Linked DNA regions of Homo sapiens. Changing the gene in region 6 together with the main gene of any one other region gives a genetic interaction. Each region holds a gene or a part of one and is shown on either strand. Other genes may lie near its edges. The genes, in order: PPP2R1A, MCM3AP, RINT1, ASCC3, GET3, SEC22B and CEP295.

What was found.
Region 1: changes in SEC22B (region 6) and PPP2R1A together harm fitness more than expected from each alone (negative genetic interaction), as found in Homo sapiens cells (one large-scale study listed by BioGRID).
Region 2: changes in SEC22B (region 6) and MCM3AP together harm fitness more than expected from each alone (negative genetic interaction), as found in Homo sapiens cells (one large-scale study listed by BioGRID).
Region 3: changes in SEC22B (region 6) and RINT1 together harm fitness more than expected from each alone (negative genetic interaction), as found in Homo sapiens cells (one large-scale study listed by BioGRID).
Region 4: changes in SEC22B (region 6) and ASCC3 together harm fitness more than expected from each alone (negative genetic interaction), as found in Homo sapiens cells (one large-scale study listed by BioGRID).
Region 5: changes in SEC22B (region 6) and GET3 together harm fitness more than expected from each alone (negative genetic interaction), as found in Homo sapiens cells (one large-scale study listed by BioGRID).
Region 7: changes in SEC22B (region 6) and CEP295 together harm fitness more than expected from each alone (negative genetic interaction), as found in Homo sapiens cells (one large-scale study listed by BioGRID).

Annotation. Positions count from the first base shown.
Region 1 is NC_000019.10:52,224,552-52,229,171, forward strand, and holds part of PPP2R1A (serine/threonine-protein phosphatase 2A 65 kDa regulatory subunit A alpha isoform), read left to right. Parts: intron 1-1,165; coding exon 1,166-1,257; intron 1,258-1,413; coding exon 1,414-1,430; 3' UTR 1,431-4,620. UniProt on the Homo sapiens protein: The PR65 subunit of protein phosphatase 2A serves as a scaffolding molecule to coordinate the assembly of the catalytic subunit and a variable regulatory B subunit.
Region 2 is NC_000021.9:46,233,964-46,238,073, reverse strand, and holds the end of MCM3AP (germinal-center associated nuclear protein), read left to right. Parts: intron 1-1,094; coding exon 1,095-1,245; intron 1,246-1,747; exon of another isoform or gene 1,748-1,850; intron 1,851-2,647; coding exon 2,648-2,806; 3' UTR 2,807-2,941; downstream 2,942-4,110.
Region 3 is NC_000007.14:105,562,714-105,566,321, forward strand, and holds part of RINT1 (RAD50-interacting protein 1), read left to right. Parts: intron 1-1,019; coding exon 1,020-1,234; intron 1,235-2,410; exon of another isoform or gene 2,411-2,563; coding exon 2,564-2,744; exon of another isoform or gene 2,745-2,816; coding exon 2,817-2,935; intron 2,936-3,608. Other genes in the region: EFCAB10 (EF-hand calcium-binding domain-containing protein 10), read right to left, coding at 2,836-2,902. UniProt on the Homo sapiens protein: Involved in regulation of membrane traffic between the Golgi and the endoplasmic reticulum (ER); the function is proposed to depend on its association in the NRZ complex which is believed to play a role in SNARE assembly at the ER.
Region 4 is NC_000006.12:100,507,166-100,511,603, forward strand, and holds the end of ASCC3 (activating signal cointegrator 1 complex subunit 3), read right to left. Parts: intron 2,943-4,438; coding exon 2,767-2,942; intron 2,369-2,766; coding exon 2,221-2,368; 3' UTR 1,029-2,220; downstream 1-1,028. UniProt on the Homo sapiens protein: ATPase involved both in DNA repair and rescue of stalled ribosomes. 3'-5' DNA helicase involved in repair of alkylated DNA: promotes DNA unwinding to generate single-stranded substrate needed for ALKBH3, enabling ALKBH3 to process alkylated N3-methylcytosine (3mC) within double-stranded regions.
Region 5 is NC_000019.10:12,742,877-12,747,496, forward strand, and holds part of GET3 (ATPase GET3), read left to right. Parts: intron 1-2,500; coding exon 2,501-2,649; intron 2,650-2,732; coding exon 2,733-2,883; intron 2,884-4,320; coding exon 4,321-4,428; intron 4,429-4,518; coding exon 4,519-4,620.
Region 6 is NC_000001.11:120,151,900-120,156,519, forward strand, and holds part of SEC22B (vesicle-trafficking protein SEC22b), read right to left. Parts: 3' UTR 1-4,620. UniProt on the Homo sapiens protein: SNARE involved in targeting and fusion of ER-derived transport vesicles with the Golgi complex as well as Golgi-derived retrograde transport vesicles with the ER.
Region 7 is NC_000011.10:93,723,629-93,728,248, forward strand, and holds part of CEP295 (centrosomal protein of 295 kDa), read left to right. Parts: intron 1-625; coding exon 626-747; intron 748-2,022; coding exon 2,023-2,203; intron 2,204-3,347; coding exon 3,348-4,009; intron 4,010-4,620. UniProt on the Homo sapiens protein: Centriole-enriched microtubule-binding protein involved in centriole biogenesis.

The DNA.
Region 1 (4,620 bases), on a different chromosome or scaffold from region 6:
ACCCATTTGCTGGGCCTCAGAGACTTGGGGGTTCTGAGATTCTGTTCCACTTTCCCAGCCTGCTCTGATCTCCCTGTTTGGGGCCCCAGTCCTTGTTTATCATACTTCTGACCTTTAAGTAATTGGTTGGTTGGTTGGTTTTTTGCAGTTTGTTTGGTTTTCCTTTGAGGCAGAATCTCGCTCTGTCGCCCAGACTGGAGTACAGTGGTGCGATCTCGGCTCACTGCAACCTCTGCCTCCTGGGTTCAGGCAGTTCTTGTGCCTCAGCCTTTCAAGTAGCTGGGATTACAAGTGTGCACCACCATGCTTGGCTAATTTTTGTACTTTGAGTAGAGATGGGGGTTTTCCCATGTTGTCCAGGCTGGTCTTGAACTCCTGGCCTCAAGTGGTCTGCCCACCTTGGCGTCCCAAAGTGCTAGGATTACAGGCTTGAGCCCCCGTGCTCGGCCTTGAGTTTACCTTTTTTTTTTTTTTTTTTTTTTTGAGACGGAGTTTCGCTCTTGTTGCCCAGGCTGGAGTGCAATGATGCAATCTTGGCTCACCACAACCTCCGCCTCCCAGGTTCCAGCAATTCTCCTGCCTCAGCCTCCCAAGTAGCTGGGATCACAGGCGTGCACCACCACGCCCTGCTAATTTTGTGTTTTTAGTAGGGACAGGGTTTCTCCATGTTGGTTTGGCCAGGCTGGTCTCAAACTCCCAACCTCAGATGATCCACCCACCTTGGCCTCCCAAAATGCTGGGATTACAGATGTGAGCCACCACGTCCGGCCTGATTTTACTTTTAATTGACTCATAATTTTATATATTTATGGGGGTATAGTAGTGTTTCAATAATGTGTGCAAATGTGTAATGATCAAATTAGGATAATTAGCATATCTATCACCTTAAATGTTTACTGTTTCTTTGTGATGAGAACATTCAAAATCTTCTCTTATAGCTGTTTTGAAATATGCAAAATGTTATTATTAACTATGGTCACCCGCCTGTGCAGTGATCAGAGATTTCTAATTCCTGTGTGTGCCCTGGATTCTTGAGACTCCTCCCACCTTGGGTTTGGTGTATCCGTGTCTGTGTACACTCTCTTGCCCAAGAGCCCTGTGCCCACCTGTTGCCCCAGTCCATCCTGGCTCACCCTCTCTCTCCCTGTCTCCTTTCGCTTTCCAGCACCTTGCAGAGTGAAGTCAAGCCCATCCTAGAGAAGCTGACCCAGGACCAGGATGTGGACGTCAAATACTTTGCCCAGGAGGCTCTGACTGGTAAGACCTAGAAAGCACGGAGCCCTAGCAGGAGGGTGGACTTTGAGGACAGGCACTGGGCCTGTGGGCAGCAGCTTCTGGGAGGGGGAGGTACCTTGGCATTGTGGGCAGAGAGAGGGCTCTGGTTCTGATTCTTGCCTGTTCCTGTTTTCCTAGTTCTGTCTCTCGCCTGATGCTGGAAGAGGAGCAAACACTGGCCTCTGGTGTCCACCCTCCAACCCCCACAAGTCCCTCTTTGGGGAGACACTGGGGGGCCTTTGGCTGTCACTCCCTGTGCATGGTCTGACCCCAGGCCCCTTCCCCCAGCACGGTTCCTCCTCTCCCCAGCCTGGGAAGATGTCTCACTGTCCACCTCCCAACGGGCTAGGGGAGCACGGGGTTGGACAGGACAGTGACCTTGGGAGGAAGGGGCTACTCCGCCCACGTCAGGGAGAGATGTGAGCATCCCGGGTCACTGGATCCTGCTGCTGTAATGGGAACCCCTCCCCCATTTACTTCTCCACCTCCCGTCCTCCCCATCATTGGTTTTTTTTTGTGTGTCAACTGTGCCGTTTTTATTTTATTCCTTTTATTTTCCCCCTTTTCACAGAGAAATAAAGGTCTAGAAGTAGTTGGTCCTCTGGCCTTAGTCATCAGCTTGGAGGAGGGGGCACCACCCCAGAGCCACAACATCTGCGCTTTTCTCTGGAGAAGATCTTGTTACAGGACCCATTATACCCCTATGTCCCGAAAGAATACTCTGGGGATCCCCCCAGGAGTGCTGCTGGCCTTTGGGGTAGAGGGTCCATGAGGTGCTCTGGGTGGTGTCCTGTAGTGCAGTTCAGATTCATAGATGTCGGCCGAGTATTTGGGGGGTTAAGAGCAGGTGCCTTGGAACCAGACTGCCTGGGTCCAAATTGTGGCTCCTTCAGTTAATAGACGTGTGACTAGGAGTAGCTTGTTAAGTCTTTATGAGCTCAGTTTTGTATTGTGTAAAATGAGAGTTACAGTAATACCTAGATTGCAGGGTGGGTGGCGAGGACCAAGTGAATTAGTACCTGGAAAGTGTGTAACAGTTTCAACATGAGAAGTACACAACATGAGAAGCAGAGTTAGCTGTACATTGCCAGAGAACCCCCTGTGGGCCATTTCCTGTGTTCTTGAAGAAGACTTGGGCTTGGACCCTGTCCCCAGGAGGTCTCAGAGTAATCAGGACGGTACTAGGGAGAGAACTGTGGCAAGATAGATCAGTTATCTCGGTATCTATTCTCCCCTTCCTAATGTAGAAGCTCTGATTTTTAACTGGGCAGATGACTACATGGATTCAAGGTATTTTCCTAGTGTCTCTTGAAATTAGGTGTGGTATTGTGACCAAATTCTAGCCAAAAAGATGTTGAACAGAAGTGGTATATGCAGCTTCTAGGAAGTGTTCTTAAGGGGGAAGGCGTCATCCCCCACCTTTCCTCCTTCCTGCACTCTGGAATGTGGACCAGATGGCTGGAGTAGGAGCTGCCACCTGGGGCCAGAAAATGATCTTAGGCGTGAAGGTCAAGTAAGGCAGGACAAGAGAGAAGGAGCCTGCCTCCCCGAGGCTGTGAAGAGCCATGCCAGTACTGTCACCTGGGAGAATTAAACTGGTCAAGTGCCTGTTCGTTTAGGGTTTCATCACTTGAAGGTGACCGGAATTCTAACTGATGGAGGGAGGGGCCCAGAGCACCCTGGAGAAAGGAGCAAGGGACGTATGGCTGGTGGTGTCTGCATGGAAGGGTTTCACAGAGGAAATGATGCTTGAGCACATTTTGACCCAGGTGGTGGAAGGGAAATGTGGCTTTGAGTGACAAGGTGATTTCACCAGCTCAGCCTTCATATTACCACATCCCTACCCTTTGTTAGACTTTATTGTGCCCTAGGGGATGAGGCTGAAGGAGACCAAAAAGCATCTTTAGAAATTTCCATTTATGCCCTGGGCGATAAACTCTCTCCCAGTTGAGAACTACTGCTCTAGAAATGTGAACACACGTGTAACCAAACGTCAAAGTCTGACATTAAACTTTGACTTTCCCCATGGTTAACGCTGCTGGTCCATTGTAACAAGAGTGCAGTGGACCAGCAGCCTTTGCATTCTCAGGAGCTTGTTAGAAATGCAGAGCCTCTCGTCCCTGCCCCGACCTGCTCAGGCAGAGCCTTCATTTTAACAAGATGCCCAGGTTCATCTGCACACTGAAGTTAGAGAAGTCCTGCCTTAAATACTAACCCAGTTTTTCTCTCTTGAGAGTGAGGTTAATGCTACGTGGGTCTAGGGCTGAGGATGTGCTATGGCTCAGAGGTGGGGTCTACAATTGGACATGTGTATGTAGACAAGGCTCAGGGATATGTTGAGGCTGCTAGATTGGGCAAGTGATGGAATGGGATTATTACAGGAGGTGGAGGTGCGATGGATACCCAGGATGTGCTGGGTAATGAGGTGATACTCAGCGACCACAGGAGTGAGTATGAGAGACGAGGGTGAAGGATAGCTTGAGTTATTGAACGCTGGCAGAGTCCTGAGTTAACCAGGAGTTGCCTGGTGTCTTGGGTCATGTGCTCTAGAAGCAGAGCCCGAGTGGAGACTCGTTCAAGTGTGTTACTGAGGGAGTGCTCTCAGGAGAACGGACTGAGGTAACTCACCTTCTGTGAGCTTCATGTTGGAAGAATCCAATCAGGTGATGAATGTGATGTTATTAAGTCCATTGTTAGGAGTGGTTCCTAATCTCCCAGGCTGCAGGCTTTGTTTGCTCCATACACCTGGCCTTCTCTGTAGCAGCTGAAGTTTGATGCTGGAGCTGGGTCAGGGTGGAGAGACTGTGTGGAGCCAGGACTCATGACCCTGGCCTGTTTCTCCCGCTCTCTAGGCCTAAATCCCAGCAGTCACACTGGCCATCTCTAATGGTTCCTTCCACAGCACTGTTCTTCAGAGCCCACACACAAATTTTGTCTCCTTTTGTGATGACTGCACTTCTTTGGCTGTTTTTGCCAACAGCCTCTTCACTGACCCCTTCCTTCCACTGCATTGACCCAGACATCTGGATGTGGATGAGGTCGAGTCACTTGTTGCCTTTGGCTAATGCATAGGGGCACGAGTAGAGCTCTAGAATCACCATGCCCTTGACTCAGGGTGCAGAATCTGCCTATGGTGCTTGAGCTGTGGTTGTCGCTAGAGGAGAATTACCATGGCTCCCCCGGGCAGATGAAGATGACGAGGTGGTGCCTCAGCCCCGAGGAGTGAACTGCAGGGCACCGACAAGATTCTGCCTGTGGCCATCAGGGCTGGAGGGAAGGAGGCCAGGTTCATCTACCCAAGCTGGTGGCATGAGGCATAAATTTAAAAAAATTGGTGTGGGCACA
Region 2 (4,110 bases), on a different chromosome or scaffold from region 6:
TGGCTGGAGTGCAATGGCGTGATCTGGCTCACTGCAACCTCCGCCTCCCGGGTTCAGGCAGTTCTCCTGCCTCAGCCTCCCAAGTAGCTGGGATTACAGGCACGTGTCACCATGCCTGGCTAATTTTTGTATTTTTAGTAGAGACGGGGTTTCACCATGTTGATCAGGCTGATCTTGAACTCCTGACCTCAGGTGATCTGCCCGCCTCGGCCTCCCAAAGTGTTGGGATTACAGGCATGAGCCACCGAGCCCAGCCTAGTTTTTTTTTTTAAATTAAGCTTTATCATAGGAAGTTGTTAAATTTTTAATAAGTACATTTCTGCTTCTCAGTTGATGTCATAACTTAGTTATATTCTTAGTAAAAAGCAAAGGCTTAAGGCTGGGTGTGGTGACTCATGCCTATAATCCCAGCACTTTGGGAGGCTGAGGTGTGCACATCACTTGAGTTCAGGAGTTGTAGACTAGCCTGACAATACAGCAAAATCCCGTTTCTACAAAAAAATACAAAAATTAGCTGGGTGGCATGCGCCTCTAGTCCCAGGTATTTGGGAGGCTGAGGTGAGATCATTTGAGCTTGGGAGGTCAAGGTTGCAGTGAGCCAAGATTGTAACACTGCACTCCGGCCTGGCCAACAGAGCGAGACCTTGTCAAAAAAAAATAATAATAAAATTGGCCAAGCACAGTGGCTCACTCCTGTAATCCCAGCACTTTGGGAGGCCGAGGTGGGTGGATCACCTGAGGTCAGGAGTTCAAGACCAGCTTGGGCAATATGGTGAAACCCCATCTCTACTAAAAGTACAAAAAATTAGCTGGGCACAGTGGCACTTGCCTATAATCCCAGCTACTCAGGAGGCTGACGCAGGAGAATCACTTGAACCTGGGAGGCAGAGGTTGCACTGACCCGAGATTATGCCACTGCACTCCAGCCTGGGCAACAGAGTGAGACTCTGTCTCAAAAAAAAAAAAAAAAAAATTATATAAAATTTTAAAAAAGCAAAGGCTTAAAAAGTTTTTAAGTATATATAGAAGATTAATGAACAATAGTTAACTTCCTAATGCTCAAATATTTTTGAATTTATTACATATTGTTTCAGGTTTGAAGATCAGCTTCAGCAATGGTTGTCTGAAGACTCAGGAGCATTTACGGATTTAACTTCCCTTCCCCTCTATCTTCCTCAGACTCTAGTGTCTCTTTCTCACACTATTGAACCTGTGATGAAAACATCTGTAACTACTAGCCCACAGGTGAGAAGAACGTATACATTTGGCATTTACATAAGAATTAAAGATTGAGAGAATGGCTGGGGAAAAAAGTAATATCACGATTTATCCTATGATGTTTTGATGACCGACAAATTATTAGCTCAAATTAGACCTTTTCTTAAACTTTATCCATATCATTGTTAAAGAGACCCAACTGATTTTGAGTTTCTGCCTACGAAATAAATGAAGAATAGAATTGAAATATTCTTAAGAACTGAATAAGACCTGTAACTGTGTGCTGATGTGTAATTAAGGGCATTAAGGTGATGACAGCAGCTTCTGTTGGAGCACATATTGTCTGAGCTTTGGCATTACCCAGACCTCTCTTCTGGGATTAATTTTTCCTGAGGAAAACTAATGAATGAGGAAGGTAAGCTCCCAGAAGTCAAGAGCCTCACCCAAGAGTGTTCAAGTAGTGAGTGGTCAGGTTGCTTTTCAAAGCCAGATCCAACTGGCTCCAAAGCCTAAGGTCTTTTTACCTTACCATTCTTCCTTCAGTGGTTAAAGATGCAAAAACAGAGTTTCAATCACAGATATGTGCCACTGAACAGGTAAAAACTGTGCTCCTGGACTGGCTTTAGGAAGTCCTTCAATAGAGGAGAAAAGCAAATTAAAATGATGTACTGTTTCCATTCATCAGTTTGGCAAATACTTTAAAAATATTCATACCCTTTGAATTACCAATTCTAACCTAAAGAATTCTGACCTACCAGATATTCCCCAAAAATTAATGTATAAAAATGTTTACTGTAGCATTATTGTATGAAAGTCGAAACAGAATAAATATCCGAAGATGGGAGTCTGATTAAACAATTATAACACATTCATGTGATAGAATAATTCACAGCCCTTGACGATGATATTTTCTAAAAATGACTGGCTGGGCGTGGTGGCTCATGCCTGTAATCCCAGCACTTTGGGAGGCTGATGAGGGAGGATCGCTTAAGTCCAGGAGCTTGAGTCCAGCCTGGGCAACATAAAGAGATCTCATCTCTACAGTACATAATTAGCCAGGCATGGTGCTACATGCCTGTTGTCCCAGCTACTCAGGAGGCTGAGCTGGTAGGATCACTTGAGCCCAGGAGTTTGAGGCTGCAGTAAGCTCCGATCATACCACTGCGTTCCAGCCTGGGTGAAAAATGACTGACACTGGAAATTGTTCATGATAGAATACAAAGGCAAACAGTCTATATACAGATACCAGCTGAATGTACGAGCTAAATGAGGCTGGAAGGATATACAAAGGATAATTTTTTTCCCTCTGTAAAAATAAATGACTACTCAGATGAGGTTTCTAACATGATCCAGATCTAGTACCTTCCCAGAGATAGGTCGTGGTTTATTGACATCCCAAAACTGTTCAGTTTCTTTTTTATTCAAATAGAGTGACATGATGAGGGAGCAACTGCAGCTGTCAGAGGCGACAGGAACGTGTCTAGGCGAACGACTAAAGCACCTGGAAAGGCTGATCCGGAGTTCAAGGGAAGAGGAAGTTGCCTCTGAGCTCCATCTCTCTGCGCTGCTAGACATGGTGGACATTTGAGCAGCCTGACCTGTGGGGAGGGGGTCTCTCCCGAAGAGTTTCTGTTTTTACTCAAAATAATGTTATTCTCAGATGCTTGATGCACTGTTGGAAATGTGATTAATTTAATCATGCAGATAAACCATTTAAATGTCAGTCTCCCAGTTTTTCATAATGAAAAGTTGTTTCCCCTGTGTGACCTCTTCAATATTCTCCTATATTCATGACCTCCTCAGATTGTCACCCACCAGCATATGCTCTGAGGCAGTTTAGAGCTTACATTTCCATGTATAAAAGGCGATTCATTCTCTCAGCAAACTTGCAGTCCTTGATGTGCCAGACATCAGTGATGCAGAGATAAAGTAAGACACAGGGCCTCTGCCTGCTAAGCCCACCCAGCTTACATCCAGGAGAGTCAGGTACTTATGTACATAATTCTCAGAGAATGTGCATGAGGCGTGGGCCTGAATTGGTAGCAAGGAAAAAACAGAGGATGGAACAGGGTCTGGTTGGGTAGAGGAGAAACAGAATTCCCGGAGAGGAGTGCAGGGGTGTAGCTGGAGACAGTGTACTTGAGAGGACATGATGAAAGCGTGGAGGTACCAGCTTGGTTGTGTGGCCAGGTGAGGGGAACAGGCCAGCAGGGTGAGGTCAGAGATTCTTGTCACCTTCTTCTGAGAGCTGTGAGAACCCGTTGTTGAAGATTAGGCAGAGAAGTGATCTGGTCACATTTTCTTTTAAGAATGGCATGTAGGGCAGGAATCTTGAGAGGTGGGTGCTGCAGCCATCCAGGTGAAATTCAAAGGGAATAAGCGTGAGTTTGTTAGCAATTGGTGTGAAGAGAGGGGATAAAATTTGAGCCATATACAGAAAGAGGTATTAATAGACTTGGTGATGTTGCGTATGACCACCAATCTTAAACTGGCACTCAGCATCTCCTGACTGTAATCCTACATCCCCAGACTCTATTTCATGTCTTCTCATTCTCTTCAAACCTCCAACATTCTTAGATCATGTCCTCCTTATTTCACTGAGAAAACAACAGCACTAAGAAGAGAACCTCTTCCTCCACCAAATCAATCCCTGCTTCTCCAAACACACACTACTCAACTCAGGGATCTTTAGTGATTAGCTTCATGTAAAGACTTAAATAATGCTATTTCTTAATCTTGACTTGACATTGTTGACTTCCTACAATGGAAGAGGAGTTAGCTTCTCTTACACTGTCTTTCCCACAACATATTATCACCCCCACCCTCGACACCCACATTTCCTCTCCTATTAGTCTCCCTAAGCAGTTTGATATTGGCTGAAACCTGCATTCA
Region 3 (3,608 bases), on a different chromosome or scaffold from region 6:
TGGTGAAACACCATCTCTACGAAAGTTACAAAAAAAAAAATTAGCCAGGTGTGCTGGCACACGCCCGTAATCCCAGGTACTTAGGAGACTGAGGCAGGAGAATCGCTTGAACCCGGGAGGCGGAGACTGCAGTCAGCCAAGATCACCCCACTGCACTCCAGCCTGGGTGACAGAGCGAGATTCCGTCTCAAAACAAAAAACAAAAAAACAAAACAAAAAAAACTTGTACAAAAATGTTCACAGCAGCATTTGTTCATAATAGACAAAGTAGAAGCTACCCAAATGTCCACCAGCTGATGAATGGATAAATAAAATGTGGTCTATCTATATAATGGAATATTACCTGGCAATGTAAAAAAAATGAAGTGCTGATACGTGTTACAATATGATACGTGTTACAATATGGATAGACCTTGAAAATGTACTGAAAGAAGACAGTCACAACCAACCATACGTTGTATGATTTCATTTATATGAAATGTCCAGAACAGGCAAATCCATTGAGACAGAAAGTCAATTAGTGGTTGCCTATGAGTTGAGGGAGTGGGGAGACGGTATTAGAGGATAACGGCTTTTTTCTTGGTGATGAAAATGTTCTAAAATTGTGATGGATATACAACTGAATATATAAAAAAATCATTGAATTATACACTATTATTAGTTTTGAGATGGAGTCTCACTTTGTCGCCCAGGCTGGAGTGCAGAGGCATGATCTCGGCTCACTGCAACTTCCACCTTCCAGGTTCAAGCTAGGATTACAGGCACATGCCACCACACCCGGCTTATTTTTGTATTTTTAGTAGAGTTGGAGTTTCACCATGTTGGCCAGGATGGTTTCGAACTCCTGACCTCAGGTGATCCACCCACCTCAGCCTCCCAAAGTGCTGGGATTACAGGCATGAGCCACCGTGCCCGGTCGAATTATACACTTTAAATGGGTGAATTGTATGACATATGAATTCTATTTCAAACTGTTAAAAAAAAAGTATGCTAATGTGTTAACATGTTTTTGCTTTCAGTTCTTTCTACAACTTCAACAGGCTGCACTGGAGGTGTTTGCAGAGAATAATACTCTGAGTAAATTGCAGCTAGGACAGCTAGCCTCTATGGAGAGCTCTGTCTTTGATGACATGATTAACCTCTTAGAACGTTTAAAGCATGATATGTTGACCCGTCAAGTAGACCACGTTTTTAGAGAAGTTAAAGATGCTGCAAAATTGTATAAAAAAGAAAGGTATGTCCTCTATGTAAGTCAGCTCTTAACACCAGTTTGGTAAAAGTTAAAGAATATGTGGTCAGATTTTCAAGGTGTCTAGATAGAACCCGGTTTGGCCTTATGTACTTTATTGTTGATGGAAATATTTCTAAAGTATGTTCTCTTGGACATTTTTTTTGAGACAGTCCTACTCTGTCACCCAGGCTGGAGTGCAGTTGCACGATCTTGGCTCATTGCAACCTCTGCCTTAGAGGTTCAAGTGACCTTCCCACCTCAGCCTCCCAAGTAGCCAGGACTACAGGCATGCACCACCACACAAGGCTAATTTTTGTATTTTTAGTAGAGATGTGGTTTCACATTTTGGGCAGGCTGATCTCCAACTCCTGACCTCAGGCAAGCCACCTGCCTCGGCCTCCCAAAGTGCTAGGATTACAGGTGTGAGCCACCACACCTGGCTGACATTCTTAATCAGAATAAACTGATTATAATTTAGTTGTTTGTAAATATATCAATAGGATAGTGTGTGATCTGGGGTTGAATAGCCTAACCTGTCTCCCATTTTGCAAAGTAAAGTGCACCTGTGGTACTCTGCATACTTTTGTTGTGGTTTATCCCACTACCATTCACTGTGAACACCTGTGTTACTTTCATCCTTGATAGCAAGCAGTATCTTTTTGTCCTAGCATAGTCCCTGCCACACAGAGTGCTTAAAATTCGTTTATTAGTCCTGTTTTTACTAAAAATTAGAGGATAATATTAGCTGATGTCTTAATTAAAATGCTAAAATCAGGCTGGGTGCAGTGGCTCACACCTGTAATCCCAGCACTTTGGGAGGCCAAGGCGGGCAGATTACTTGAGGGCAGCAATTCGAAACTAGCCTGGCCAACATGGCGAAACCCTGTCTCTACTAAAAAATTCAAAGATTAGCTGGGCGTGGTGGTGGGCACCTGTAATCCCAGCTACTTGGGAGGCTGACACGAGAATTGCTTGAACCCTGTGGCTCTAGCCTGGCCAACAGAGCGAGACTCTGTCTCAAAAAAAAAGAAAAACTACATAAATAAAATGCAAAAATTAAGTGACATTTTAAATTGTAATTGCCTTATATCAGTAATTCACATATTAAAATTTGGGGATATTTTGGATATATCCCCATATTAAAGAGTATTTGAGAGTGAAAATATAAATACAGGTACATTTATTTTCTGATAGAGCTTTTAATGTTAGGCTGTATATTTTTTCTTATCCAAAATGCCCTAGGACAGAACACTTCCTCAAATTTAAAATGATTTAAAAACTTGAAAAATAGAAACTGATGAAAATTTTTTGGTAAAAATGTGTTTTTTCCAGATGGTTGTCCTTGCCATCTCAGTCAGAGCAGGCAGTGATGTCCCTGTCCAGTTCGGCTTGCCCGTTGCTGCTGACGTTACGAGACCATTTACTTCAGTTGGAGCAGCAGCTTTGTTTCTCCTTATTTAAAATTTTCTGGCAAATGCTTGTAGAGAAGCTGGATGTATACATCTACCAAGAAGTAAGTAAGAATAGACTGTTTTTGGGCTGTGATAATAAAGACAACTGTTATATGAATTATTCTTTGTTTCAGATAATTCTTGCTAATCACTTCAATGAAGGAGGAGCAGCCCAGCTGCAGTTTGATATGACTCGGAATCTTTTCCCTTTGTTTTCTCACTATTGCAAGAGACCAGAAAATTATTTTAAACAGTAAGCTCAACATTTAACAATTAATATTAATGTATCAAATTGTTACAGGAGGCTAACTCCTTTTAACTTTAGGGTTCTGGAGATGTTTGGGTGGGATAAGATCAGTTGAAATTTTAAAACATTGTCTATCTACTGTATGCTTACAGCACAATGGGGAAACCAAGATGATAGATGTGACCCATGACCTCAAAAAGTTTCAGAACTAGATATAAATTACCTGTTGGGTTTTGTTTTCTAGTATTTGGTTTAATGCTTCTAGTTGCTTAGTTACTGGAGGAATAAATAGAAAATGAAAACAAGTACAGTTGTGCCCTATTCACTAAATATAAGAAATTACAGGGCCGGGCGTGGTGGCTCACGCCTGTAATCCCAACACTTCGGGAGGCTGAGTTGGGCAGATCACAAAGTCAGGAGATCGAGACCATCCTGGCTAACATAGTGATACCCCCATCTCTACTAAAAATACCAAAAAAAAAAAAATTAGCCAGGCCTGGTGGCGGGCACCTGTAGTCCCACCTGCTTGGGAGGCTGAGGCAGGAGAATGATGTGAACCCGGGAGGCGGAGCTTGCAGTGAGCCAAGACTGTCTCAAAAAAAAAAAAAAATTACAAATATGTTTAATACCTAATAGGCCAGGCCTGAAAGAAATTTGTTTCCTTAAACATTTGACATTA
Region 4 (4,438 bases), on a different chromosome or scaffold from region 6:
CTAGTATTAGTGCAATTTTTTTATTATAATTATGACATCTTGTCAACCCCAGGCTACCCTTTGTGAAGGCAGGATATGTTTCTGATTCATGTGGGTATCAGAATACTCAACACAGTGCCTACAACAAATCCTTGACTGGAACTTCAATTATTTTGAGTTGATAAACTCCAGAGAAATATGAAATGACCTGCCATGAAAACAGAGTTGTATAGTGTGATAGCCAGCCCAGAGGTGCATGTTCTGAGATAAGTGGGCTGTGGTGTGGGTACATCAGTTAAGAAAGCACTTTATAATACAGCCCTGAAACCTTTTTATCACAATATTTCTCTTCACGAAAACAAAACCATCCAAGACACTTTAGAACAAATGCATTCTCTCAATAATCAGCATTTGGAATTATTTTAAACACTGGGAAAATTCTTGGCCACTAAAAAAGTTATAAGAAGTGAATGACTTGCAGATATGTAAATAGTAGTACTAATCTGAATATGTTGGCATATATTCTAAGACACATTTAACACTACAATTTTTGTTGAGTAATGAGTGTGGATAAAGTTGTAGATAGTGTCGGTCACTCATTGGAATAAGATTAACTTAAATTTGTCACATTATTTCTCTTCTCTCTAAAGGGGACAACAGAAATACTTTCTTATTGTTCCTATGTCCTGTGTCGTATGTCCAGTGAAGGAGACTCCCCAAGTTGGCTTGCTCGCTAACAAAAAGGAATGATGTTGGTAAACATGGAATCAGTGAGATTGTTACTCCTCAGGTTCCTGTATGGACTGGTGATTGTTATCTATATATAATCTCCATTTTCTTTTAATTCTACTAAAACAGTGGTTAAGATATAAATTCCAATTAGGTAATAAACTTTGCCAAAGAAAAAACAGAGAGAACTCTTTATATGAAGTAAATTTCTCAGACTAGAGTAATTGGGACACCTCATTCTCACTATACTTGGTTTGCTCACAATAGTTATTTCGATTTAATTTTTGGGAAGTGAATAACTGGTTCCCCTGCAACCTACATTTATTTCTTCTTCTTTTTTATTTAAGCATGGAAAAGGATATATACAAGCAATACATTCCAATTTCAGAAACACTTAAATTCTAGTATTTGTAACAATGACATTGGAAAATGTTTTAAAATAATTCATTTTAGGGCTAAGAAAACTGAAATTATTTCACAAAGGTAGAATTTCATTCCACTAGAATGCATATTATATGAACATTGAATTTTAACAAGTTTTTAGTTTGAAAAAGTATTTTTCAAGAAGGAATTTGTTTGGACATAGAGAAATTTTCTTTATTACAGGTGAAAACCTATCCATAGGGGTGAAAAATTTTCTGTCTCAGATTTTTCCTGGAGAGCATAAAGACAAATAATTGTACTATATGATCTGTAAGTGCTACAACATGAATTAGATTATACTTCTCTACTTCTGTAAATAAATATGTCAGAAAGATAATAGAAATAAAGCCTTGAAGTAGAAGGGAAAGAAAAGAAGAACAGATGAGTAAGGGGATATTATTTAAAGGAAGCAGAAGAAAACATTGAGTCAGCTTGTCTTGAAGTGCCACTCTATATTTTATTTCCCAGTTAACCATGTCTACATTTTCTAAGATCAGTATATTGTTTTCTTTGTTATCATCATTAGGCTCCATAATATAATTTTACATCATATATTATTAAACATTTATGACTACAAGAAATTCTTGAAGCTACTTCTACATGTGATCATATCAAAGTATAAATTTTGCTAACAAGACACGCTGTGTACCACCTTACAGATTTATAGTTTATGCGGCAGAGTTAGAAATCTGTGACAAGTCCTAACACTTGTCACATCTCAATGTGGTTTTCCTTAAAAAAAGCAGCCAATATCCATGTAAACAGTACATTGTGAGATGTAAAATTTGATTGATAGCTCCTAAATATCATCCCAAATATACACAAATTAAAAGATTATTCTAAATGCTTTTTCATCTTACATATCAAGAAACTCATAAAGATAACATTATAAAAGGCAACATTTGTTAAAAGGCCACTGTGGTTAACTTTATGTCACTGGAGTCAATACTGCAGCCACTGTCAATTTCCTGGATGGTTGAGGTTAGAAGTTGATTCTTTCAAGGCAAACATCAAGTAATTCGATTTGTCTAGATGACTGAACAGAGAGAATTCTTAGCCACTCCTTTCAAATGGATTGTTCAGGTCAAGTTACTTTAATGCCAGGTCAGTCAGGGAATCAGAGACCTTGGTGTTGACCTGTGCAGAAAGACTCGCTTGTGTAACGTTGAGATAGATGTCATACTGCTGGTCCAGGCCAAGGTAGCAGTCACTCATGAAATATAATGTGTAGATATACCTAAAATATAAAAATAGAAGAAAAATGTAAAACCACTTTTGTAATCACAATCATATTTAATTCTTTCAGAACTTTGGTAGTAGGAGGCTGGGTGCGGTGGCTCACGCCTGTAATCCCAGCACTTTGGGAGGCCGAGGCGGGCGGATCACGAGGTCAGGAGATGGAGACCACGGTGAAACCCCGTCTCTACTAAAAATACAAAAAATTAGCCGGGCGCAGTGGCGGGCGCCTGTAGTCCCAGCTACTCGGGAGGCTGAGGCAGGAGAATGGCGTGAACCCGGGAGGCGGAGCTTGCAGTGAGCAGAGATCGCGCCACTGCACTCCAGCCTGGGCGACAGAGCGAGACTCCGCCTCAAAAAAAAAAAAAAAGAGAACTTTGGTAGTAGGATTCTTCTTACCTTCCAGGTATTTCAGGGGTATAAAAAGAAAGGGAAGCAACATGATGATTTCGAATATATCCTACTCTTTTCAAAGCAATAAGTTCTCTCTTATCCACTTCTCCTAATATCAAAAACCATCCTTCGTCTTTTGATTTGGGAAATCGAGGAGTAACTGCACAGCTCTCTGGCTTTCCCTGTAAACCAGAAAAAAAGATACAACATTAAAAATATCTAGACTTCCTATACCACTTGGTTGTGGTTAAGGCTACGTTGTCTTACTTGAAGGCCATACATCTACATAGTTCAGCATATCTATCTGAGATGTTTTAAATTTTCTTCCATTCTGGTTTGGTGTCTTTGATATGCAATTATTTAACTTACTTCAAGATTCTCAGAGCATATTATAGACACTAGTTCGTAGTTGTAACTATCAGAATATATGGCCAGTTAGAATAAAAAACTCTGGATCTTGACATCAAATTAGCAAATTCTCATGCTATTCCTACAATTAACTTTAATACCACATTGGTAGATGAACAAATTGAGACATAACCATGTTAATCAAATCTTCCAAAACCTTATTCACCAAAAACGAATGCTTAAGAAAACAAACAAACAAACAAAAACACAAAGCCAATCAAGACTAGACTCTGGACCCCAAGATGATGAGTACTATATCAAACACATACTTTCCCCCTCATCCAAGAATAAAACTCACATAAAAAAGCACATATTCTAATATGGTAACATTAAAAAGTCCCTTCTCTGAGGAATGGGCAATTTTAAGTCAAGCAATTTGTAAAATATATTAATCACCACAATCCAAAATTAGATATAAATATAATGATCGCACTTGAGGTCTTTATTTTAGATCAATTTTTATAAAATGCAAGATTATTCTAATGATTCTTTAAGACAATGACTTTATGGCATAAAATATAGTAATAATGATACATTCTCAGACTTCACTCAGTATTCTAGAGGGAGATGTTTCACTTACAGTATTTCAAAAGGGAGTCAGAGAGTAATATATTTTTACAGCATTCAGAAACAAAAATTAAGAGATTTTCTGGCATGATTAAATCTAAGCTTTAAGTAGAATATTAAGGTAAAAAAATCATAGTTTTCCCCCATGATTTTATCTTTATGATTGTTGCTATTTTTATTATTACTATTATTAGTTTGTAATTATTACTTTTTTTTATAAGTTGGAATACATTAAGTCATCTAAAAAATGCTCATATTGCCAGGTGCAGTGGGTCACGCCTGTAATCCCAACACTTTGGGAGGCCAAGGCAGGTGGATCACCTGAGGTCAGGAGTTTGAGACCAGCCTGGCCAACATAATACAAAAAATTAGCTGGGTATGGTGGCAGGCACCTGTAATCCCAGTTACTCGGGATGCTGAGGAAGGAGAATTGCTTAAACCCGGGAGGCGGAGGTTGCAGGGAGCTGATGTTGCACCCTTGTACTCCAGCCTGGATAACATAAGTGAAATTCCATCTCAAACAAACAAACAAATGAAACCTCATATTAAGGTCAGGTGTGGTGGCTCATGCTGGTAATCCCAGAACTTTGGGAGGCAGAGGCAGGTGGATCATTTGAGGTCAGGAGTTCAAGATGAGCTGGTCAACATGGTGAAACCCTATCTCTACTAAAAATACAAAAAATTAGTTGAGTGTAGTGGCACA
Region 5 (4,620 bases), on a different chromosome or scaffold from region 6:
AAGCTGGAAGTAACCAGAGTGGGGGATTTTGCCAACAGCAAGGGGAAAGGGAGTGTTTGCAGAGGGAACCTGTGGAGGCTGGGCTGGATAAGGGTGCCAGCCAAGAGGAACACTGACAGTTTACAGGGGCCAGGTGAGGGGATGAAGTAGTCCAAAGAAGCTTAAAATATATGAAGCATAAGAAGAGGGTGCAGTGATGAGTGGGCAAGCTCCCCAACAGGGAATGACCCCTAAGGCCAGCGAGTTGGGTACTTCCCCATGGGACCCATGAAGTTACCAAGAAGAGGTGACAGAGGAGGAAGATAAAGAGGGAGGCATTGGCCGGGCATGGTGGCTCATACCTGTAATCCCAGCATTTTGGGAGGCTGAGGTGGGTGGATCACCTGAGGTTGGGAGTTGAAAACCAGCCTGACCAACATAGAGAAGCCCCGTCTCTACTAAAAATACAAAATTAGCTGGGGTGGTGGCGCATGCCTGTAATCCCAGCTACTCAGGAAGCTGAGGCAGGAGAATCACTTGAACCCTGGAGGCGGAGGTTGCAGTGAGCCAAGATCACGCCATTGTCCAGCCTAGACAACAAGAGTGAAACTCCATCTCAGAAAAAAAAAAAATTACAAAAATTAGCCAGGCATGGCCAGGCGTGATGGCTCGTGCCTGTAATCCCAGCACTTTGGGAGGCCGAGGTGGGTGGATCACGAGGTCAGGAGATCGCCACCATCCTGGCTAACACAGTGAAACCCCGTCTCTACTAAAAATACAAAAAATTAGCCAGGTGTGGTGGCGGGCGCCTGTAGTCCCAGCTACTCACTGCACTCCAGCCTGGGTGACAGAGCGAGACTCCATCTCTTTTTTTTTTTTTTTTTTTTTTTTGAGATGGAGTCTCGCTCTGTCGCCCAGGCTGGAGTGCAGTGGCGTGATCTCAGCTCACTGCAGGCTCCGCCCCCTGGGGTTCATGCCATTCTCCTGCCTCAGCCTCCCAAGTAGCTGGGACTACAGGCACCCGCCACCTCGCCCGGCTAATTTTTTGTATTTTTAGTAGAGACGGGGTTTCACCGTGTTAGCCAGGATGGTCTCGATCTCCTAACCTCAGGTGATCTGCCTGCCTCGGCCTCCCAAAGTGCTGGGATTACAGGCGTGAGCCACCACGCCCGGCCAAGACTCCATCTCAAAAAAAAAAAAAAAAAAAAAAATTAGCCAGGCATGGTGGGGCATGCCTATAGTCTCAGCTACTCGGGAGGCTGAGGCAGGAGAATTGCTTGAACCCAGAAGGTGGAGGTTGTGATGAGCTGAGATCGCGCCACTGCACTCCAGCCTAGGCAACAAGATCAAAACTCCATCTCGGGAAAAAAAAAAAAAAAAGAGGGAGGCATTGAGTCTGAGACTGGCCAGGGACCCCAGCCATGGCCATCCCTTCATAGATTCTACATACATGTTTGTGTTTTGTTTTGTTGTTTGTTTTTTGAGACAGAGTCTCCCTCTGTCACCCAGGCTGGAGTGTAATGGCGTGATCTCGGCTCACTGTAACCTCTGCCTCCCGGGTTCAAGCGATTCCCCTGCCTCAACCTCCAGAGTAGCTGGGATTATAGGCACCCGCCACTATGCATGGCTAATTTTTGTATTTTTAGTAGAGACGGGGTTTCACCATGTTGGCCAGGCTGGCCTCAAGCTCCCGACCTCAGGTGATCTGCCCGCCTCCGCTTCCCAAAGGGCTGGAATTACAGGCATGAGGTACCGCGCCTGGCTGGATTCCCCATATGTGCTGACGACCTCTGTGCCAGGCACTGTTCATGCTAAGCGCTAAGGACACAGCAGTGAACTAGATGGTAAAACCCCTGCCCCTGAGGGGCAGACATTCCTGCTATGGAGACAGATGATAAACATGATAAGGGAATCATGAGGGATGTGAGGAAGGGCTAATTTTTTTTTCAGATAGGTCTTGCTATATTGCCCAGGCTGGTGTCCAACTCCTGGGCTCAAGCGATCCTCCCATCTCATTCTCCTGAGTACCTGGGACTACAGGCGTGAGCTATCCTGCCCAGCTCCTAAGGGCTAAACCTTAAGGAGAAAGGAAGGCAGGGCAGGGGTGTCGGTGGATCTGTGCTGTTACTTAGGGTGGTCAGGGAGTCTCTCAGTGGAGGGATGATGATCCGGAAGAGGTCATGGCCCAGTCATGGGAGTATCTGGGGTTGCAAGTGGCAGGTTGCAAGTGGGGAGTAGCAGTGTAAATGGCCCGCAGTGGGTTTCAGCTTCCCTTTGAGGGCCCTGGGCACAGCTTGCAATTTTCCCCTTGTTTTTGACCCTTTATGCAACCATACAAAACCCTAAGTACTACCTCAGGGTCCCCCCAGCCGTGACCTAATGAAATGCCTGTGGTCACAGCCCACCACAGGCTCCCTCTGGCCCTGTGCCCGGGTAGGAAGGCTCCCCCTGGCCCTGTGCCCAGGTGGGAAGGCTCCCCCAGCAGTAGCAGCAACCTCAGTCTCATCCCTTTGGCCCCCAGGAGATTGACCCCAGCCTGGGCGTGGCGGAGCTGCCTGACGAGTTCTTCGAGGAGGACAACATGCTGAGCATGGGCAAGAAGATGATGCAGGAGGCCATGAGCGCATTTCCCGGCATCGATGAGGCCATGAGCTATGCCGAGGTCATGAGGTCAGGCCCAGCCAGCAGGGGTGGGGGCTGCCTGGGGAAGGGGAAGAGCGGACACAGAGGGCCTGACCCCTGTCTCCCCTCAGGCTGGTGAAGGGCATGAACTTCTCGGTGGTGGTATTTGACACGGCACCCACGGGCCACACCCTGAGGCTGCTCAACTTCCCCACCATCGTGGAGCGGGGCCTGGGCCGGCTTATGCAGATCAAGAACCAGATCAGCCCTTTCATCTCACAGGCAGGCGGCGGGGGCCCCCACCTGCACCATCCAGGCAGCCGGGAGTGGGAGTAGGCCCGGGCCCCCAGACCCTCAAATGCGCACTAACAATTCCCTTTCCTTCCCACCCCTTCTCACTCTGGACTTCTCCCTGGAGGGGATGGGACGGAGCTGTCTTTCCTCCCCCACAGGCAGGACTCAGTGTCCCTGCCCCTGCCCGCTAAATACCCTAGACAGAGCCAGAAAGCACATTCCAGAACCAGGCAACCTGCCTTCAAACCCTCTACACTCACCATGTGACCCAACTGCTGTGTGACCTCAAGCAAATCACTTCACCTCTCTGGGCCTCACCTTCCTTGTCTTGCAAATGGAGATCATGAGAGTGCCCCATGGGTTATTATTATTATTATTCGAGACGGAGTCTCGCTCTGTCACCCAGGCTGGAGTGCAGTGGTGCGATCTTGGCTCATTGCAACCTCCACCTCGTGGGTTCAAGTGATTCTCGTGCCTCTACCTCCCAAGTAGCTGGGACTACAGACATGTACCACCATGCCCAGCTAATTTTTGTACTTTTTGTAGAGATAGGGTTTTGCCATGTTGCCCAGGCTGGTCTTGAACTCCTGGCCTCAAGCAGTACACCCACTTCGACCTCCCAGAGTGCTGGGATTACAGGCATGAGCCACTGTGCCCAGCCCCCATGGGTTATTATTACGATGACAACCCTAAAGCCCCCACAGTGCTGCACACCACCAGCACCACCCACCATGGTGTATGTGCACGTGTGGGTGTGTGCGTGTCCCCTGTGGGGACCTGTGCCTCAGGTGGTAACACTGAGCACTTACTGTGTGCCAGACACTATTCTCAGCACATTATATGCTTCAGCTCATCTGGTACAACAGATCTGGGAGGTAAAGTTTAGAGATGGGGAAACTGAGGCTCCAGGAGGGTCAAGCCCCTTAGCTATGGTTCCCTAAAAATGGCAAAGCTGAGGCCGGCCGCAGTGGCTCATGCCTGTAATCCTAGGACTTCGCAAGGCCGAGGCAGGTGGATTGCCTGAGGTCAGGAGTTCAAGACCAGCCTGGCCAAAATGGTGAAACCCCACCAGTACTAAAAATACAAAAATTAGCCGGGCATGGTGGTGCGCGCCTGTAATCCCAGCTACTCAAGAGGCTGAGGCAGGAGAATCGCTTGAACCCAGGAGGCGGCGGTTGCAGTGAGCCAAAATCACGCCATTGTACTCCAGCCTGGGCAACAGAGTGAGACTCCATTTCAAAAAAAAAAAAAAAAGAAAGAAAGAAATGGAAAAGCTAGTATTTGACCAACCCCAGGAATCTGCTTATGGGCCTGAGCCTTTAACCACTGGGAGGTATCAGGAGTCATCCCTCGGGTGTTTAGTGAACCCCCAACCCAGGAGGTCGCCGCAGGTAAGCTATGAGCCCTCCCACATCCCCCCTGCAGATGTGCAACATGCTGGGCCTGGGGGACATGAACGCAGACCAGCTGGCCTCCAAGCTGGAGGAGACGCTGCCCGTCATCCGCTCAGTCAGCGAACAGTTCAAGGACCCTGTGAGTGGTGGTCTGGCTGGCGGTGAGAGGCCCGGGGGCTGAGGACAGGGGCAGACCCCGCCCCTCACTGTCCTCTCTCGTGCCCTGTAGGAGCAGACAACTTTCATCTGCGTATGCATTGCTGAGTTCCTGTCCCTGTATGAGACAGAGAGGCTGATCCAGGAGCTGGCCAAGTGCAAGATTGACACACAC
Region 6 (4,620 bases):
ATGCAATGCGTGACTTGTAGCTCAGGTAAAGGGGTGGCAGGTGACGCTTAAATACTAGAAATATAAGAAGCAGCACAGGTTTGGTTTTATCTTTGAGAACAATGGAGTGGAGGTATGCTTTAGATGCAATTATTTATGGGATATTCAAAACAGATATATATGAAGCAAAAAACTTGGGCCCAAAAAACAAGTTTGAAGGTATATTTGGGAGTTACCAGTAATATAGGTAACTGTTGAAGCTCTAAATATAGAAGACAAACTAGAGGAGCTTGTTTCTTGAAGAATTCTTGTCACACTTGACATTTTTTACAGAGATTTCTTAAAACAGGGGCATATCTTCTTTGGCTAACATATGCAGACTAAAATGAAAGAGTATAGTATATTATAAAATCAATAAAAGGTAAGATAAATTTAGGCCTAAAAATAAAGAATAAATACACTCAGTTGATTCTGAAGCTCTAATTTACAGATGCAAAATTGTACCAGTACATTAACTCATATGTCAAAACAACATCTAGAGAAACAAAAAATGAAAGTAAAATGGAAAAAGATAAAAGAAGTGAGGCAAGGAGAAGAGAATGGACAAAAGGAGATAGGAAAAACAGGAATTTTTTTTTTAAGGGCTAAAATTTTAGTGAATCAGATGTGGAAAACAGTTGGATTAACATTGAGATCAAATGAGAAAGGAGCAAATAAGGAAAGAGGTATTACAAACCAAGAGTAAAAAAGGGAAAACAAAATAACAAAAGCAAAAACTATTTAAAAAGAATAAAGGAAGACGTGATAATGAAGTAAATTTAAAAAGTACGGAATAATAAAAAGAAATTGCAAAAAATAACTTTTGAAAATAAACATACTAATAACTTGACAATAAAGTGAAATGTGTAAGACAAACGTATCTGTGTCATTATTTAGGAGTAGTGAAAAGTACTCTTAAATAATAATTTGGTATCTAGCAGGCCTGGATTTGAATCTACTTTAACTTGCTAGCTATGTGACCTTGGGCAAGCAAAGAAACTCCTCATAACCATTGTAATAATACCAGCAAAATGCCTTACACTTACGGCTCAAAAAATGAAGGAAATGAGAGAAAAAAGTATAGATTACTATATGGAAGTCAAATTTCTAGTGACTTTTCTAATCCAAACATGAATTGTTACAGTACTTGAAATAAACTTTATGAGAACTGAGTGACTACATTGCTTCAGATAGTTTTATACTGCTAGGTCAACGCTGCCTGACAGTAATAAGAATAGGATGTGAGATTCAATATGCTCATTCTATCTCAAACTCTGTCACACATACAATGACTGCTATTTACCTTCCTCCTGAGCCATCTGGGAAAAAACCAACCAACCAACCAACCAAACAAAAGAAAAACCCACCAGGTAGGAGTCAGTTAGTTCTGCTAACTAACTAACCAAAAACCTTAATTGTATGGCCATCAGCACCCTAGCCCTTTGTCATGAAAGCTACCAATAAGGTGGAAATTTAAAATATGAGATATTTTATTATACATGTTTTATTAAACCCTATATGTGCAGAAATGATTGTCCATTTTCCTTCTTAACTTGCTTTTGTAAGACTTATTAAGTAGAAAATATAAATCTCAAGCTCCTTAAATGTGATTTTGAGGAACTGAGACCAAAACAATTTTTTGCTGTGGAACCAGATCCTTGAATGCACTACAGGAAAATATTATTTGATATGAAATTTTTTTGGTACACACAATTTTTCAAAAATATATCTCTCTCCACAAAGTTAATTCAAATTGTAGAATTCTTCCAAGTCACAGATGGAGTTTTCAAGGCTCTGGGTACTTACCTTTGAGTTCCACATCCTTTATCTCTGGAGCTCTTAACTGAGGGAACATGGACCATTAGGTCATGAACAGACTTTGTAGTCTTTGAACAGCCTGAAACAGTATGTGATACTTGATGTGCATGTACACAGGAACATTTTTCTAGAGTAATGGCACATACCTTTCATCAGATTTTCAAAGGTTTCTCAAAATGCTCAAGAACCATTGTTAGATATTTAAATAACCAGAGTGTACAGTGTCCAAATATTTCCAAATTTTGACACTTGTAAGATGTCTTAATTAAAACAAGCCATGAAGTTCAGCGTCACAATAACCAGAAAAGCACTTGTGAGAGTAGTTCTATGTCTTTACTTCCTAGTGGTTTACACACTCTTTAACCCATATGGCAATCTGGCTTCTGTCTCCAGTGCTCTGGAATTACTTCTGCCTGTATGATTAAGTTCCTCATTGTTAAATTCGAAAATACATTCTTTGGTATTTATTTGACCTCTTGGTGGTAATATAGCGTAAGAGCACAGACTCTGGAGCCAAACTGCCTAGGTTCAAATCTTAGCTCTATTACTTTCTAACTCTGTGACTTTGGGCAAATGACTTAACTCTCTCATGCCTCAAAGCAGAATCCTTTGTAAGGTTTATTTATATAGTGGTGTAAAGAGTACTTACTTCAAAAGCTTTGGTCAGTGTGAGAAATAAGCTCCTAACAAAGAAAGTGTTATGTAATAGTTATTATCTGGTACCTCTGATCACAACATTTTTGAAAATCACTTGAAATCTGCCTAAGTTTCATTCTGCCTTTGATGGCTCCTTATTTTCATCTCCCTACTTCAGGCTTCCTCCCTAATATATCTTTTATGCCAATATTATGATCACTTGAAACTATAAATCTGATGCCATCCTTGGCCACTACCATTAAGATGGTCTAAACTCCTCAGCATGATAGACAAGTCCCTTTATGATAGTGTACCCATCTAGTTCTCATTCCTCAAGTCTCCTCTGTTGTCTATGCTTACCCTATGGGCTAAGCTGAATCAAGCTGTTACATTTCCAAAATATGCCTCACTGTCTTTATTCATGCCTTTGCACATGCCATTGACTCTTCCTAGAATGCCCCATTCTCCTTCTCTAGAAAGTCTTCTCTTAACATACTTCTTCCCAAAATAAATTAGGTGTCCTTTCTTAATATGCCTCCAATAACCCCATACAGTATTTATCCCATTCTATTTTAGATGCCAGTTTGGTTGATGATACATTTCATCTAGTCAGATCTTCCCACTGCCTCTTATAAAGAAAACCAGGAGCCATATTATGATATTCTTGTTCTCTAATTTTTCTGCTGCCCTGATCTTAAACCACTTTCTTCTCCCTTTGTTGACAATTACCCCACCCCTTATTTCTTAATTAGCCCAACAAGATTAGATAGAAATGTATCTACAAAGGATATATGTATATAAATTAACTAGATAACAAAACTTCACACTGAAGTGAACATTCTACAAGTATTTATTTCATTGCTGACCATTAGGTTGCAGCATGCAACTCTCAACAATGAGCTGCCCCTCTCCACTCCTATAGAAGCTCCAAATACTATGGTACCACTATGTAGGTTTTCAGCCTTTCAAAGGCTTTTATTATTAACATCATCATTACTTCAGCAGGAGCCTTTTAGGGACTTAAAAGCACTGATTATCTATAAAAAGTAACTTCATATTTCATGCACAAAATTCCCAATTGGCAGATTTAGGTCCATAAAAGAAAGGAAAAAAATTATTCTAGTTATATAAATTATCAGGAATAAAATAGCATTTCTCCTTGCCTTGTTATAAGGAAATAATATATTTTTCCTTACCAGGAATCAGGATAGTATCTTTGATGATCCCTCAGGGTTATAAAATTGCTTACTGGTTAAAGTTTTTTGCCAAAGATATTAAGAAATAAAAAGTTCGCTCATTTTCCTGTGCAATTTAAAGAAATATTTGCAGTATGTACAGGAATTTTAAGTTATATTGCAGACCCTGGCAATAATATTTAAAAGGCCTATTTTCCCCATTAAAAAATTCTACCTCAGAAGGTAAAAGGAAATCTCCATCATCCCTGAGCAGAAAAGGAAAAAATCATGGGTACTTTAATTAGTTAATAGAAACCACTGTAAATGAGTTATCTATCTCCAGAACATTCTCAGAGAATTTACACGAACTAAAACAGGAATGAAGTGCTCTCAGAGACTTTTTCTCAGGTAAATGTATTTAGTAGTTTGAGTAGTTGATCTGCAAAAACTTTAACTTTAATTAACTACATAGATGAATATTTTTTATTTTGAAATTTGAGAATGTCCTAAGAGGATGTCTACAGGATATGAAACTACTGGGTGCAGGAAAATTTTTTAAATGTTAGCAAATTGTGGCAAGAGGAAAACAAACAGTGGAGAAAACTGTGGTAGAGAAAGTAAAGAAGGGGCAGGAGAAAGCTGTAATTATAACCTGGGCCTGCCTTTGTTCTCATGAAGCCAGGGGCCTCTCCATATCCTATACTTGCTCTTACGCTAATAACAAACCAAATGCTGCAAAATAAAAGTAATAATGACCCAAACTAATTTAAGTCTTTTGTTTAAGGAGTAAATGAGAGAAACATTTTAGCTTCTTAATCAAGGAGTGCTATAATTTCAAGGCATCTTAATATAATTCACTTACCCTAAAGCAATTGTGCAATAAGCAAATTATAAAAGGAAAACAACAAAGGTTAACTTTCTACAGGGGCCAATAGACAAGATCTGTGGAGCACAGCAATTAACCTTCACATAC
Region 7 (4,620 bases), on a different chromosome or scaffold from region 6:
GTAAAACCATGGGCAAGTTACTTTTTAATCTTTTATAAAAGAGGAATATTATAGATTAAATGAGATAGTGCACATAAAGCACAATGTCTGGCCCATAGTAACACTGAATACAGTGAGCCTTTTTCCTTTTTTAAGCTTATACTGAAGCAGTGGTTACATATGTCCTGTTGATCCTCATTAGCCTCATAAGGCTGTGGAAATGGAAATTCGTATTTGTCAAAAGTTTGTTCATACCTGTAATCGTAGCACTTTGGGAGGCTGAGGCAGGAGGATTGCTTGAGCCCAGGATTTCAAGACCAGCCTGGGCAACACTGAGACCCCATCTCTATTTTAAAAAAAAATTTTTTAAATTTAAAAAAATTAAATTTCTCTAAAAATAAAACTTAAAAAGTTTTGGTCACTGAGAGGATCCATATTTTGGACCTTTGAAATAATCATGATAGGACTTAACTTTAAAGCATCTGCTGATCATGGGGGAAAAACTGAAGTTTTTGTTACACTGGAGTTACCTGAAAATAAGCGTTTATGAATATGTTCTTAATACTCCTTTTCTAGTGTTTACCTTAAAAATAAATTTATGATTTTTTTCCCTCAAAAATTCTAACAGTTGACCTTGACTTTCCAGAATTGGAACACATTTTTCCTAATTTGCATCATCAGCTGTTTAAACCCTTAGAACCACATCCAGATTTTGACTTATCATCATCATCCTCTGGGATTTCTCCAGACAACAGAGACTTTTACCAGGTATATTAAAGTAGATGTCCCATTGCAGTGAATATCTAAAAATAGTTTTAAGCCATTTCTTCTACTGGAACAAAAGTTCTTCTAAACCCTTACCTAGAATCACATGGAAGTCTGGGCACAGTGGCTCACACCTGTAATCCCAGCACTTTGAGAGCCCAAGGCGGGCAGATTACTTGAGGCCAAGAGTTCGAGACCAGCCTGGCCAACATGGCAAAACCCTGTCTCTACTGAAAATACAAAAATTAGCCAGGTGTCGTGGTGCGCACCTGTAGTCCCAGCTACTCGGGAGGCTGAGGTGGGAGGACCACTTGAGCCCAGGAGGTGGAGGCTGCAGTGAGCTGAGATCGTGCCACTACACTCCAGTCTGGGTGACAGAGCCAGACCCTGTCTTTAAAAAAAGAAACAAACAAACAAACAAAAAGAATCACATGGAAAACTTAAATAAAAAATAAAAATAAATCCTATTGTCCAGACTACACCCTAGACCAATTAAAGCAGAGTTTCTGGGAGTGCTCAGATAGTACTAATTATTATTATTATTTTTTAAGCTCCCCAAGTGATTCTAATGTGGAACCAACTTTGAAAACAGCTGCATTGGGCCGGGTGCGGTGGCTCATGCCTGTAATCCCAGCACTTTGGGAGTCTGAGGCAGGTGGATTGCTTGAGGCCAGGAGTTTGAGATCAGCCTGGCCAACATGGTGAAATCCCATCTCTACTAAAAAACACAAAAATTAGTTGGGTGTGATGGCATGCCTGTAGTCCCAGCTACTCGGGAGGCTGAGAACCGCTTGAACCTGGGAGGCAGAGGTTGCAGTGAGCCGAGATCGTGCCACTGCACTCCAGCCTGGACAACATAGTGAGACCCCATCTCAAAAAAAAAAAAAGGAAAACAGCTACATTAGAATTTTGTTTGTCCCATCCACCTGTCTCCACCTAGGGAGTATGATGCCATAAAAGGCTTAATAACAACTTTTAGTTGTGGAACATATTTAAACAGTAAAGTAAATACAATTTTGCAAAATTTAAAGTATCCTCCTACACAGTCAAAGGAGCTGAGATTTAAACCTGAGTCTTTTTGCTTCCACTTCCTGATGGCCTGACATTTTAAAGTCTCTTTCATATTGATTGAAAAGAACTGGATTTGAAAAAGCAAATCATTGCTGTCATAGTGAAGTGATAATTAAGGAAGAGTAATACCAAAGGAACACAATGATTATTGTTTCAATTGTTAATACCTAATCAGTATTTCAGCCTTTCCCTTTTGTTTCCTGCCAGAGATCAGATTCTTCATCTGAAAGCCACTGTGCTACTGGATTATCCAAAAGTACAGTTTATTTCACAGCACTGAGGAGGACCAGCATGCATTCTTCTCTTAACACAAGTCCGAATCAACAACCTGACACTAACTTGGCTCATGTTGGAGCTCACAGTTTTGCTACAGAAAATATTATTGGGGGTATGTATGACTAAGTTAGAAAAAGTTAATTTTTCCATGATTTTTTACATCCATTTCCTTAGAAATTAAGCCTAGCACCTCTTGGTTTGTCTTCACCCCTGCTCTCACCCCTATCCTGGGTGTTAAAAAATATTTAAATTACAGAAGTAATACATGCATTTTTTTAAACAATACTGAACATTATGAAATAAAAGGAAAAGTGTTGCCTCTTGTTCCTCAATTTCCCTACCTCAATCATTATGTGATAGTTAACAGTTTAAGTATTATTTTTTTGTTTGTTTTTTTTGTTTTTGTTTTTGTTTTTATTTTGTTTTTGAAGACTGAGTTTCACTCTTGTTGCCCAGGCTGGAGTGCAGTGGTGCAATCTTGGCTCACTGCAACCTCCGCCTGCTGGGTTCAAGTGATTCTCCTGCCTCACTCAGCCTCCCAAGTAGCTGGGATTACAGGCATGTGCCACCACACCCAGCTAATTTTCTATTTTTAGTATAGACAGGGTTTCACTATGTTGGTCAGGCTGGTCTAGAACTCCCGACCTCAGATGATCCACTCGTCTTGGCCTCCCAAAGTGCTGGGATTACAGGTGTGAGCCACCATGCCCAGCCAGTTTAAGTATTCTTCTTAGGCCAAGTATAGTGGCTCACGCCTGTAATCCTAGCACTTTGGGAAGCTGCGGCAGGAGGATCCCTGGAGCCCAGGAGTTCAAGACCAGCCTGGGCAACATAGAAAACAAGTATTCTTGAGCCTTTGGTACAAATGATTATATATACACACAAACATACATGAGATACACAAGGATGTACAAATTATATATACACACATGGATAATTGAGATACACATGGATGCTTTATTCTCTTTTCTGTTATTAAAGTCATATTCAGTTCTTATAGAGGAAAACATCCTCAGTTTATAGCCATATTGTCCTTATTAAATATTAATAGAAAAAGAAAAAATACTTGGTGTGAGCTGTAGTTTGAGAAATCACTGTGACCATCCTTATCTTTGTATTCATGTTTATACACATCAACTTTTATGCCTAAAATTGTAGGTTACTTGCAATTGGATGATAAACTATTAGAGACTGTCAGTATCCAACTTTTACAACATGTAACGATGATTAACTGATTTTTGAATTTCTTAATGCAGGATCTGAACAATGTTTTGAACAGCTTCAGCCAGAATATTCTTCACAGGAGGAGAGCCAGCATGCTGATCTACCAAGTATTTTTAGCATTGAAGCAAGAGATTCTTCCCAAGGCATGAAAAATCAGAACTATCCCTCTGAAGAACATACTGAAATATTACAAAACAAGAAAAAAATTGTTCATTTCCAGCTTTCTATAGGAAACTTAAGTTCAGTCTACAGTTCATCTGATGAAGCTAATGTATTTGATCAGTTAAATGTACAGCATAGCACTCCATGTGGTTCTAACTCTAGTGAGTGCTCAACAAAACACCAACTAGAAAGCAGAAAGGAAAGTATGGGCTTTGAAGAACTATCAAAAAGAGGGGTTGTTACAATGTTACAAAGTCAAGGACTCATTGAAGATAATAAAAATGAAACCTGTAGGGTTTTAGACATAAATCCACAGGTAGAGGAAACTGACTCTCGATTATGTGTAAGAACAGTGGAGATGGGAACTTCAATTCAGGCACCATATTCCTTAACTACTCAAAATGAAAAATATTTTGAGAATTCAGCTGAAACAGACATTCCAAAAATCACCAAAAAACTATCTCAACTAGGAGAATCAGAGCTTTTTGCAAGTTCTGGATCATTTTCATTACAGAGCTCTATACCAGTCTGGGTAAGTGAAATCAGTGTTGTATAAATAACATTTAAATTCCTTTTTGGGAAAAAACTTTTTTCTTCTAAAATTAGAGATGAAGTTCCCACTATGCTACCCAGGCTGAACTCAAACTCCTAGGATCAAGGGATCCTCCTGCCTCAACTTCCGAAGTAGTTTGGACACACCACAATGCCTGGCAGGAAAAACCTGAAACAAAATACAAGCAAAACTGCTTGTTAATATTGCTATCCAGCTTGTGATCACTAGAAATATCCAGCATAATGCAGAAACTTAAAAATTTGAAAACTGTCTTCTGAGAGTATTTTACAAAAGATCCTTTTTCTCCCAATTCAGATATCCTTTCTCCAACTTCCCTGAAAAATGGTGGTTCTGCCTGTGCTTCAGCACTTTCAGTGTTGAGCCTCATTCCAGTGCAATGAATTCATCCATTATTGGAATAAGTATTGGAAACCTGCTCCTCATATTAAGCAACTTATAATCTGCTTGCTTTCAACACCAGTCAACTGGTGACTGGTTTTCATCTAGCAGTATGTGCAGTTTATCCTTCCACAAATAAACATAACAGATTGAAAATAAGAATTACAACTAAACCACGTTTTATGTGGCTG